Linked DNA regions of Homo sapiens: regions 2, 3 and 4 are each reported to be linked to region 1. The links are microRNA targets in miRTarBase. Many come from high-throughput screens and were not tested one by one. Region 1 holds a microRNA gene; each other region holds the end of a gene's coding sequence. Distances are from middle to middle.

Region 1 (3,109 bases):
CAGGCCCCCGTGCCAGGAGCTTGACCAGCTCTTAACAATCTGCCCAGGGCAGAGACGTGAGGTCCCCTCCTGCCCACCTGGTGACCCCGGTTGCTCCCAAAGTGAAAAAGAGAAAGACAACAAATAGAAGCCATCACCCCCACTCCCAAGCTCCACCCACCCGCTCAGAGCCCTGCTGCGGGGACGACAAGACCCTTGTCATGCCCCAAGCCCATGAGCACTGACCTCAGACCCAAACAGTAAGCCTCGTCCAGACCCCTGTCCACCTGTCTGAGATCAACAAAGACAAGCATACCCATCCTGACACCACAGAAGCTGAGGGGTAGACCAGGAAGGGAGCGGGTGCATGGGGGAAGCGGGGGTGAGGAAGGGGAGACGGGAGGTGGGAAGGAAGGGCAGGGGAGAGGGTGCTCCCTCCTGCAGGAAGGGAGGGGGTGCATTGGGGAGGAGGGGTGAGAAAGGGAAGATGGGAGGTGAGTGGGAAGGGCAGAGGTGAGGGTGCTCCCTCCTACAGGAAGAAGGGGTGCATGGGGAAGGAGGGGTGAGGAAGGGGAGATGGGATGTAAGTGGGAAGGGCAGAGGTGAGGATGCTCCCTCCTGCACCCTCTTGTCCTCTCTAATGGCCTCAGCTACTGCAAGGCCTCTCTCCCCACACTGGCTGCCCTGCTGCCCCGATGCTCATGCCTGGGCTGGCTGTCGTGGCTTGTTAATGGGGTTAATGATGCCAATATCACAGGGCTTGGTGCGGGTCACCTCTGCCATGCACAGGACCTGAGTTAGTCAGAGAGGCAGAAGACAGAGGTCCAAGAACCAGGGGCCACGGCCGTGCCCCCTGCTCATGTTGCCATTGGGCACCCTCAGGTACCCAGCCTGAGCAGGGTACGCACAGGGGAAGAAGGGAGCCCAGCTGACAGCTTCTGGGGACCCAGAGTTGGGAATCCTTGGGGAGAGGGGAAATGTCTCCAGAACAGGTTTAAGGAGAGAGTAAGAAGCCGCCTGTGAGGGGCCTCAGCCTCCTGGTCATGAAAGAGTCCTGGGTAGAGGCAGAGACCCCTCGAGGAGACCCTCCTCTTGGGGCACAGAAAGGGCCAGCCCTGGTCCGCCAAAGCCCCACCCCCTCCACCCTGGGCACAAAGGGGCACCATCTCTCCAACGTCTGTCCATCCATCCTGTGGGCCGGGTCCCTTTGGAGGGCTCTGTGTGGGAGCACAGCCCCAGCCCCTCAGTGGGAGAAGCCCCAGGGCTACCCAACTCCCCCTCCGGCCTATCTGCCCTTGGCTGTGGAGTCAGCCCAGGGGGTGTCCCACCAGGGGCATAGTTCCCTGCCAAGGAGGGGCCTCAGAGATGGCCCAGCCCCAGGCCCTCCCCTCCAGGAAGTCAGAGAGCTGCAGAAGAGAGAGAGAAGAGCCCAAGGAGCATGCCGGGAAGAGGCTGGCAGGACAGCAGCGGACTTGAGGACGCGTCCCCGTGCAGCCAAGGGTGCAGAGGAGGGTCCGGGGGCTGCGCGTGGTTGAAGGGGATGAAGAAAGGCATCATATAGGAGCTGGATAACTGTGCATCAACTCCTGTATGAAGCCGTTCCCACCCCCCAACTACTGACTACGGGCCGCAACCCTCCTCCCGGAAGCGCAGTGCAAGCGCTCGGATGGCAGAGGGGACGCCTGCTGCTAGTGGTTAGAGCAGTGACAGCAAGGGACAGCCAGCCTAGGCAGTGCCACCCACTGCTGGGCACCTGCAGCGCTGGGGTACCTGTCCACCCTGCCCAGCCTTGCCCTACCTGCCTCCTATGGCCAGGGCCTGGGCCTCCCTTAGCCCCACAGAGCCCCCAGGTGACTGTGCAGCCAGGCCAAGGGACGGAGGATGGGGAGGTGAAGGGGGAGACAGGCCTGATTCTGGCCCAGGTCTGTGAGTGGACATCGGGGACTCGACCCCACCCACCCACTGCTTTGACTCCCTGGTACTTCTCCAGCCTTGCCTTCTACATCTGTGAAATGGGTTGCAACAGGCACCTCTGGGGACCCAGTGAGGACTCATGAAGTCCAGGGGCACTTCAAGAATTTCCCAGAGACAGAAAGTAGATTTTTGGTTGCTGAGGGCTGGGGGGTGTGCATGGAGGGTGAAGGTGACAGCTGAAGGCTCTGGAGTTCTTTTGGGGGTGATGAAAATGATCTTAAATTGATTATGGTGATAGTTGCAGATATCTGTGAATAACTAAAACACACTTCGCTGTGAGCTTTAATGGGCGGATTGTGTGTATGTGGATTACATCTCAATAAAGTTGTACCCCAAAACACCTTCCTTTGTTCTTTGACATCTTTCTCAACCACCATACTGCCTGCCTCGTCCTACACTCTCCAGCCATCCACACCACCAACACACATGCACAGGGACACGCAGCCAGGCACGTGGTAGGTGGTGCAAAAATATCTGTGAGTAAATGACCTGATAATATAACATTCTCTGAAAGAGCCCATGGAGGGAAACCTTTAGGGAAAGGGGTTAAAGATTAAGAAGTAGGGGTGGCAGGAGGGTATGGAGGTGGGAAAGAGGCTCAGAGTGACACATGAATGGAAAAGGGGCTCAGATTGACAGACACATGGAGGGAGGAGGGGCTCCCTGTAACACATGGGTGGAGGAGGGGGCTGGTGTGACACACGGGTGGGGGAAGAGCTCCATGGGACACATGGGTGGAGGAGGGGGTTGGTGTGACCCATGGGTGGAGGAGGGGGCTGGTGTGACACATGGGTGGGGGGGGTTAGTGTGACACATGGGTGGAGGAGGGGGCTGGTGTGACACACGGGTGGGGGAAGAGCTCCATGTGACGCATGGGTGGAGAGGGGGTTGGTGTGACACATCAGTGGAGAGAGGGTTGGTGTGACACATGGGTGTGGAGAGGGGCTCCATGTCACATAAGTAAGGGAGGGGCTCAGGGCAATGCATGAGTGGGGGGAAGGTCTCTGGGTGATGCATGGGAAGGGGAGGACTTCAAGTGACATGTGAGAGAAGCTCAGGTGACACATTAGTAGGGAAAAGGCTCCTCATGACACATGAGTGAAGGAGAGGTGGAATGTGAGACAGAAAAGGGGCTCAGTGTGACGTGTGTGGGAAG
Region 2 (3,109 bases), not on the chromosome of region 1:
TGTTACTCATTCTTCATCAAGCTTGCCCTCAGCTGCCTTTGCCCCTCTTACCCCCAGGTCTGCTGATGTTTGCTGTGACCCACATGTTCTACGCCTCGGCCTTTGGCATGCAGCCACTGGCTCTTCGGACAGGTCTGGTGATGGCAGCGCTGTCGGGCCTGTGCTATGCCCTCCTCTACCCATGCCTCTCAGGTGCCTTCACCTACCTGGTGGGGGTCTATGTGGCCCTTATCGGCTTCATGGGCTGGCGAGCTATGGCAGGGCTGCGGCTGGCCGGGGCAGACTGGCGCTGGACAGAGCTGGCAGCTGGCAGTGGTGCACTCTTCTTTATCATCTCAGACCTGACCATCGCCCTCAACAAATTCTGTTTTCCTGTGCCCTACTCTCGGGCGCTTATCATGTCCACCTACTATGTGGCCCAGATGCTCGTCGCCTTGTCAGCTGTCGAAAGCCGGGAGCCTGTGGAACACTACAGACTGACCAAGGCCAACTGAGGTGCCAGGGTCTGGTCACCCCTCTCTCCTCCTGGGGCTGGGGCCCAGATCCTGGGGACCTGCAGGAGCTGGATCAGGATGGCTGCAGTGCCAGCCTGGGGCAGCAGGTACTGCCTGAGGAATTTGCAAGTTCGTGTGGGGAGGCTGGAAAAGGATCTCCCTAGCAGAACTCGTGGTTCAGGACAATGCTGAGAGCTAAAAGAGCCAGCCTAATATCAGACTGGAGCCAGAAGTAGACATCTCCCCACCTCTACCCTATCAGGACTTTCAAAACCCCCCTGGAAGGTGATGGTGCTCAGCTTCTTGACACCCCCCCACCCACTTCCCCTACCAGGTGGAAGAGTCTGACTCCATGTGTTATGCCTAGGACCAATGGCAGTGCTGGGTTCACCCACTCCTCCCCTTTTTCATCTGCACAAAGTTGAGGGAAACGGGAGAATCTGTGCTGAGAAGACTCAGACCCAGGAGCCCCTTTCACAGGCCCCTAGTTGGGAAGACTGGATGAGAGTGGAGCCTCCGTTTCTTTTCCCTCTTCTATCCTTGTTACTTGAACAATCTCAGTCTCTAAGTGGTGGGTGGGGACATGAAGAGGTGTGGGTCCAGGTTAGGCAGGAGAGAGAACTTCTTTGGTCTCGGAGTTTGGGGTCTCAAGAATTCAAGTAGCCCCATCTCTCTCTCGGGCAAGCCCAAAGCTCAGGTCCCATACGCTACCCTTAGATCCTATCCCCAGGGCTAGGGTGAACCATGCCAAAGGAAGGGGCCAGCTTCTCTGTGTGTGTGTGTAGCCTGTCTCCTAGTCTGCCTATGTCTTTCTCTGCTATATGTTTCTGTCCTGCTGTCTGTCAAAAGTCTCACAGAGAGAGGGCCTCAGGGAGCTGCTGAGGGGTGCTGAGCCTGGCTCAGGGAGCTGGGACCCCTCCCCTCCAACACACATACTCACAGTGCTTTCCTCCTTGTCCCTCCTACACTAGGAGCAAGAGGAGGGGGCTCCAATGACACTCCGGGGTTTTAAGACCCAAGGCACATTCAATGCAAGGGGAGCAAGGATGGGACAACTCCATCTTCTGCTGCCCATGTGAAAAATAATAAAAATCAAGAGCCATTGGCTGCCCTGCTTGTGGGCCTGTGTGGCACATGCCTATCTTGGAGAGGGCATGGGGGCATGGTGCCAGAGGCTCTGGCTGTCCTCACAGCCTAGTCACAGTCCTGGGCAGTGCATCTTGGTGCCAGGCTGGCTACCTGGCTCTGGTGACACTGTGCCGGTTGGAGTGTGTCTCACTTCCCTGGTGTGGGTGAGGATGTGGTTTAGGAGGATGGGGGATGAGTGGTATTTGCCACTGTCCAAATTTGTCCTTGATGTACTCCCCTGTGCACAGGTGCCCAGCACCCTTGGTGACCTTTAGTTACCCAGTGTCATCTATTGCTGCCCACCTCCTCCCCTCCCCACTTGAGACCTGCTGCTTCCTTCAAAATGATCCAGATTCCCTTCAAGCATCTCCCTCATCCTGGACTCTGGGCTTAGTTGAACAGCTGGGAGCAATGGGATTAGATTGGCTGATTCATTCATTAGTTGTAAAGCCCTGGCAGAATAATACATCACTCTGCTCCAGGAGCATTTGTAACTTAACAGACAATGCCCTAACCCAGAAGTAGAAAGGGAAGCCTTGGGTGGTGGTGGATATGCCATCAGTAGAGGTGTTGCTCATTTGTGGGGATGTGATTTAGGAGACTCAAGTCTCAGGGGTGGTTGGATGAGTCAGTGATTTCCAAATTAGTTTTTACAGAGATTCCTGGTAAGGGGGTAGTGAAGGAATAATGAGAGAAGGCAGGCTCAAAGACCTCCTATCCTTATTTCAAGTCCAGTAGCTTCTTAGGTTGTGTTTTTTTTTGTTTTGTTTTGTTTTGGAAGGATTCCACTGAAAAACGTAAGTTTGAAACTTAGTGAGCTGGATGATCAATCCCTTCTAGCTCTGAACCCTGGACACTAAAGAGGGAAGATCTTGATCCTTTCAAACTTCAGAACTCTGAACACAGACCTACCTAGTGTGAAGAAATGGGAGGGAGCAGGATGGAGAGCAGGATGAAGTCAGCAGGACTTGCCCCCAAGCTCTGAGGGGAGGGGGAAAGTGCCATGTAGATGTGGAGGAGGGGAAGGGAAGACCAGGCCCAGTCACAAGAAGGCTGGTCACTGCCTTGTGGGTGGGTTTGGACTAGGCTTTCAGGGGTCCAGGTCTGGGATTCCCTATCATGCAATCACATCCATCCCCTTGGTCCCTGCTGTATATCACCCTCAGGAACGGGAAAGGATGAGTTACGTTTATTGCCCCATCCCTTCACTGAATGTTTACATTAACAAACACCAGAGAGCAAACTGGGCTTCCTACACTGGGCCATGCAGAGGACAGGCCAAGAAACTCCACATCATAACAGCCTCCTGATGCCTGGGCTTGGCTGGAGCTCACATGAGGTGCTTTGATTTCTTCTGCAGACTCTCGGTGATGGATGCTACAACTGACTTATCATCTTTGTCTGAAAGAGCAAAGGAAGTATTCGTTATATTAATGATGCTGGCGACCAGGGAAATTCCAAACTGCTGGACTTCCTATGCAGGAAAC
Region 3 (3,109 bases), 78 Mb from region 1:
CACTGCAATCTGGGATTGAGGATTTTGCTATGCTTTGGGCCCATAATTCCCAGCTGAGCAGGTGGTCCTAGGTTGTTAATATGGTCTGCAGTACACAGTTTCTGCTGAGACTGCTTTTTTGTCTTTGCTTTTGTCATAATTTTGAAATACTAAGCTCTCTGCAGTAGAGTCTTCCTCCAATCATGACAGCCCTAAGAAATAATTTTCCATGATTTGGTATCTCCCTGAGCCTAGAAAACATCCTTGAAATGTTTGCTGTGTCCCCTTCCTAAGTACACACCATGACTCATCTAGAAAAAAAGAACTTCAGAAATCTAGAGTAAGCAATCAGAAGACATGACCTTTCCAGAAGGCTCTATCAGGAAGCCCAAGGGTTACTCATATTTGCAAGCGTGAGAAGGTCAATGTTGGTGGGTCAGTTTTCTACCTGCATTCAAGGTTATCCACTGGTAACAGTTCATTTTAACTAGCAATAGCTGTTATCCATTGCTCAGATAACTCATCTGCTGTCCCTGCTCCCAGATGGTACAGCTGCTCTCTTCTCTGGATTTTTGCAGCACTTTGTTCAAACCTATAGCGAGGCCCTAAATGGGCTGTATTTTAACTGTTATGTTTACGTATTCTCCCCTACTAGACTGTACATGTCTTGAAGGCAGAAGCCACACTTTTGGGTTTTTTTTTTTAATTGAGATAGGGTCTTGCTATGTTGCCCATGCTGGTCTCAAATTCTTGAGCTCAAGCAATCGCCCACCTCGCCTTCCGAAAGTGCTGGGATTATAGGCATGAACCACCACGCCCAGCCAACAATATTGTTTATATTCCCAACAACAAGACATTGGCTGGCACATAGAAGGGGAGGGAGGAAGGGAGGAAGAGGATAACTCAAGTCTTAATCAGGTGTCTAATGAGTTAAATTGTATTAAAATAACAGAACAAAGTGGTTCTTAAAAGTTTTTCACTGTTGGGAGGCCAAGGCGGGCGGATCACCAGGTCAGGAGATCGAGATCATCCTAACACGGTGAAACTCCGTCTCTACTAAAAATACAAAAAATTAGCCGGGCGTGGTGGCGGGCGCCTGTAGTCCCAGCTACTCGGGAGGCTGAGGCAGGAGAATGGCATGAACTCGGGAGGCGGAGTCTGCAGTGAGCCGAGATCGCACCACTGCACTCCAGCCTGGGTAACAGAGCGAGACTCCATCTCAAAAAAAAAAAAAAAAAAACAGAAAAGAAAAAAAAAAAGTTTTTCACTGAAATAAACCTCACTGTCAACTTACCACTACCAAAATGATACCTTACCTGAACTAACAGAACTGTTTTTGAGGCAGTATCAAAGGAAAGGATTTAGGTAACATATTATAAGTAAATGACTAATTCATGTCAGAAAAGGAAGTATAGTCACTTCCACATTATTGCATCCACTTTGCACATAGATGCTCTAACTCTTATACTAGATTTCTGCTGGTTAGTATAAAAATGACAGCTTTCCAAGTGGTGACAGGAAGAGGTTGGTCCTAGGATATCCTTCCCCCAAATAGGATGAGATCTCCTAAGGTTCTCTTTTCTCTACCACCCAGAACATTACATTTTGCAATGCAAAGGCAAAGATTGCATGCATTCATCAGTAAGCTACATGGGATACCGGAAGGAGTACGGGGCCAAGAACACCGCTAGACTAGGGCACTTCACTGCAAACACTTAACTATGTGGCCAGGGAAGGCCAATGGATTGTTCTAGGCCTCTGTTGTCTCATATATAAAGTAACAGTGTTGACATACGGTATGGAAAACAGCCATATATTTATTAAAGCTTTAGAACTCTGCTTGGGAGGGAGCGATTTAGGGGAGGGCGTACCATATGTGATGAAGGCCAAGCAGAGAGGGCTTTTCAATTTCTGTCCATCAAAAAAAACTCCAATTCTACTTCTGCTTTATATACCAAGATTCTTTTTGTAAGAGTTTGTTTGGGAGAAGGGAGAAAGAACTCTACTGCTAAAAAAGTGAAAATGGCAAATGAACCAAGCAGCATCCCATCTTATATTTTAAAGTCTTCTCCCAAGTTAACCCAATTTCCCCATTTATTTCTACTTTAAGGCACATATTAGCAAATGCCCACAGTCATTCATCCAACATACACTGGATGCTATCAAATTTAAGTGCTATGAAAACAATGGTCCAGCATTAAAAGTCATCTGAGATCAAAATCAGAAAAAAATTAACTAACAAATCTAAAGGCAAAACCTACCATTTATGTCTCTTCCAAAATCTCCGAGTTATTTTCGTGGAGTTATTGGTACAGAAATTATTGTACTAGCTACAAACATTAATTTTCTATTACCTTAATGATTTGAAGAACAGAAAGACAAGGCAATGACCAAGAGCAGTAGCACTGATGAATTATGATGATATTAATGCATACTTTGCAGACCAATGGAAAATTCTGCAAATGTCAATAGCAGTATGGGAGCCTGGCCAACCATGATCAAAACCAGTCCCATCCAATTTCTCTTCCTAAAATCAACATTATAGGACAAGGACTATGATCATCACTTACATTCTTTTAGTCTCCTACTCCTCAATTAAGTAAATGAGAATGATTCAGCCAACAAAGTTCATGACAACAAGGTGCAGGATGGTGCTGGCAAAGAGAAAATCAGCAAAGGCTCGCTCTGGGGAGATGCCTTGGAAATCCGCTTTGTTCTGTGGGTTGATCTGTATTCTCAGGCAAACTGCACAAGAAGCAAAACACAAAAAAATGATTATATAGAAGTATAAAATAAATATGCTAATGAACACAGACATACCCGAGGACCCAACAATTCTACTCTAACAGAAATGAATGCATATATACATCAAAGGGCATACACAGAAATGATACCCAGATAGCCCCAAACTGGAAACAATCTAATGTCTATCAACAGTAAAATGGATAAATTATAGCATATACAAACAATAGAATATTATACTGCAATGAAAAAGAACTTCTGCTATACACAAAAATGGATGAATTGCACAAGTAAGTTGGGCAACACAATCAAAAACTTTATTTTTTGGGGAGTCGGGGACAGAGTCTCGCTCCGTCACCCAGGCTGGAATGCAGTGGCATGATCTCGG
Region 4 (3,000 bases), not on the chromosome of region 1:
TTTTCCAATTTTACTCATGATTTCTTCTATTTATTTATTTATTGAGACAGTATCACTGTGTTGCTCAAGCTGGAGTGCAGTGGCACAGTCACAGCTCACTGCAGCCTCGACCTCTGTGGCTCAAGGGATGCTCTTACCTCAGCCTCTCGAGTAGCTGGGACCATGGGCTCTGGCCGTCATGCCCAGCTAATTTTTTATTTTTTGTAGACACAGGGTTTTGCCATGTTGCTCAGACTGTGATTACCTCTTTAACCACTGGTTATTTAGGAATGTGTTGTTTAATATCCACATATTTGTGAATTTCCCAAATTTTATTGATTTCTAATTTCGTTCCATCATGTTTGGAGAACACACTGCATAGTTTCAATCCTTGTGATTCTCCTGCCTCAGCCTCCCAAGTAGCTGGGACTACAGGTGTGTGCCACCATGCCCAGCTAATTTTTTTTTTTTTTTGTATTTTTAGTAGAGGCAGGATTTCACCATGTTGGCCAGGATGGTCTTGATCTCTTGACCTCGTGATCTGCCCGCCTTGGCCTCCCAACGTGCTGGGATTACAGGTGTGAGCCACTGCGCCTGGCCTATTCAAAACATTTTCTATGTCCTTTTTTAAGTTTTGAAGTTTTCTCCACAGAGGTATTAATTTTTTTGTGAATTTCTAGGTACTTTTACATTTTTCATTGAGAGGTACTTATCTTATGTTTCTTTTATTTTTTATTTTTTATTTTTTATTTTTTTTTTGAGACAGAGTCTTGCTCTGTTGTCCAGGCTGGAGTGCAGTGGTGCGACCTCAGCTCACTGCAACCTCCACCTCCCAGGTTCAAGCAATTCTCCTTCCTCAGCCTCCCGAGTAGCTGGGATTACAGGTGTGTGCCACCATGCCTGGCTTTTTTTTTTTTTTTTTTTTGTATTTTTAGTAGAGACGGGATTTCACCATGTTAGTCAGGCTGGTCTCAATCTCCTGACCTCGTGATCCGCCCGCCTCGGCCTCCCAAAGTGCTGGGATTACAGGCATGAGCCACCACCCCCAGCCCTTATGTTTCTTTATTACTGGTGTTCAGAAATGGTATTAATTTTGTAGGTTGATCATGTGGCTGGAAAATATGCTAACTTGTCATTCTAAAAGTTTGACTCTTTATTTTGTGAGTTTTGCAAGTTTATCATCTCACCTTCAAAAATCTGTTTTTATTTCTTCCTGTGATAGTTTTTACACCTCTTATTATGTCTGGACCATTGTACTATATATATATATATTATTTTTTCATTGTACTATATTAAAACTAGTGGTGACAGTAATTTCCCCTCAAATTAGGACTGAAAGTCTCATTTTAAAAAAACCCAAATTCAGCCTGGGCAACAAGGCGAAACCCCATCTCCACTAAAAATACAAAAATTAGCCAGACATGGTGGCGCATGTCTGTAGTCTCAGCTACTCAGAAGGCTGAGGTGGGAGGACTGTTTGAGCCCAGGAGGCAGAGGCTGCAGTGAGCCAAGATGGTGCCACTGCACTCCAGCCTGGGTGACAGAGTGCTGTCTACAAAAAACAAATAACAAACAAAAAATGAAAAATTGGAAACAAAATGTAAGTTTATAACTTTCTGTCATTAAAAGTGGATGATAGTGTACTCACTTCCACAACACATATACTAAAATCAGAATGATACAGAGAGAAAAGTGGATGATGGTTTCTTCGGTTTCCTTGAAAAAAAGTGTTTTTAAACTAGATAACCCAGCCGGGTGCGATGGTGCACTCCTGTATTCCTAGCACTTTGGGAGGCTGTGGCAGGTGGATGGCGTTAAGTCCAGGAGTTGGAGACCAGCCTGGGCAACATGGCAAAACCTCGTCTCTACAAAAAACACAAAAATTGGCCAGGCTCGGTGGCTCATGTCTGTAATCCCAGCACTTTGGGAGGTCAAGGCAGGCGGATCACTGGAGGTCAGGAGTTCAAGACCAGCCTGGGCAACGTGGTGAAACCCCGTCTCTACTAAAAATACAAAAGTTAGCCAGGCATGGTGGCACACGCCTGTAATCCCAGCTACTCAGGAGGCTGACACAGGAGAATCACTTGAACCCCAGGAGGTGGAGGTTGCACTGAGCTGAGATCCCGCCACTGCACTCCACCCTGGGTGACAGTGCGAGACTCAGTCTCAAAAAAAAAAAATTAGCCAGGTGTGGTGGCGAGCATCTGTAGTCCTAGCTACTCAGGAGGCTGAGGTGGGAGGATCACCTGAGCCCAGGAGGTCAAGGCTTTTGTGAGCCGTGACTGTACCACTGTATTCCAGCCTGGGTGACAGAATGAGAGCTAGTTTCAAAAAAATAAAAGTGGATAACCCCCAAAACCACTGTCCTACTTTTAGAAAATCCAAGATAGTTTTGGGAAGGGAATTTTGGAGTCTCATTGGCCATGAAAGGGACTAGGCAGGCTTCTCAGGGAGACTTGTGGGGCTGATTACGTAGTGCCCAGCTCTACTTGGAAAACTCTTTTTGCAACATTTACATGGAAATCAGAGACACAGACCCAGATGTTGGGTTAAAATGAGACAAAGGAAAAAAACAGTCATGTACAAGAGGCAAGAAGACCACTTTTCTAAATGATCTATATTTATTAGTACTCTGGTCAGAGAAATCCCAAGTCTACCATATTGGAGGTTTTCTGGAATTCCAGGCTATCTGTTAGACTGTAGGCTTCAAAGGCTTGGCTTGTCATATTGGGCCAGGTTTGTGCAGGAGATAGGCCTACAGCTGGACCAGCAAAGATGCTGAGAGAGGAACCCTGTCCTCCTACCTGGTACTTTGTGGGTGAGAGATACTGATACAGACAGTGGAAAGAAGAGCTGGATATCTCATTCTCATCAGGAAGATTGTACAGTTCTATGATTTGGAATATGTCATAGGCATCAGAGTACAAAGCAGGAACCGAGGCCACCAGCCTCTCCCACTGAGTATCTTGCATTTGGAAGTCACTGGTAGAACTCTCAGTGAAGGTAGAGTTCCATGCCCAA

Evidence for each region. The annotated mature microRNA hsa-miR-665 reads ACCAGGAGGCUGAGGCCCCU and lies in region 1 at 1,002-1,021, opposite strand. An mRNA with a match to its seed (bases 2 to 7 or 8) in the 3' UTR can be bound and repressed. Matches are read on the target gene's strand: a 7mer-m8 pairs with bases 2 to 8, a 7mer-A1 pairs with bases 2 to 7 and ends in A, and an 8mer does both.
Region 2: the mRNA of TMEM86A is a reported target of hsa-miR-665. Seed matches in the 3' UTR shown: 7mer-m8 at 523-529 and 7mer-A1 at 1,998-2,004.
Region 3: miRTarBase lists DAD1 as a target of hsa-miR-665. The part of its 3' UTR that is shown has no 7-base or 8-base seed match.
Region 4: the mRNA of ARGFX is a reported target of hsa-miR-665. Seed matches in the 3' UTR shown: 7mer-m8 at 2,232-2,238, 7mer-m8 at 2,071-2,077, 8mer at 1,799-1,806 and 7mer-m8 at 1,463-1,469.

The regions. Positions count from the first base shown.
Region 1 is chr14:100,872,987-100,876,095 of GRCh38, reverse strand. It overlaps MIR665 (microRNA 665), which reads right to left and starts at 1,063; the gene lies at 992-1,063. It overlaps MIR337 (microRNA 337), which reads right to left and starts at 1,603; the gene lies at 1,511-1,603. RefSeq lists an enhancer at 2,255-2,424.
Region 2 is chr11:18,701,516-18,704,624 of GRCh38, forward strand. It overlaps TMEM86A (transmembrane protein 86A), which reads left to right. Exons shown (of 3, transcript NM_153347.3): 3 at 58-3,109. The coding sequence ends at 494. IGSF22 (immunoglobulin superfamily member 22) reads right to left here. Exons shown (of 23, transcript NM_173588.4): 23 at 2,797-3,023. The coding sequence ends at 2,953. Among named protein-coding and RNA genes, the nearest start is that of IGSF22-AS1, 3.4 kb to the right of the region's middle.
Region 3 is chr14:22,572,510-22,575,618 of GRCh38, forward strand. DAD1 (defender against cell death 1) reads right to left here. Exons shown (of 3, transcript NM_001344.4): 2 at 2,550-2,724. The coding sequence ends at 2,594. Among named protein-coding and RNA genes, the nearest start is that of DAD1, 15 kb to the right of the region's middle.
Region 4 is chr3:121,586,216-121,589,215 of GRCh38, reverse strand. It overlaps ARGFX (arginine-fifty homeobox), which reads right to left. Exons shown (of 5, transcript NM_001012659.2): 5 at 1-3,000. The coding sequence ends at 2,616. Among named protein-coding and RNA genes, the nearest start is that of FBXO40, 5.7 kb to the left of the region's middle.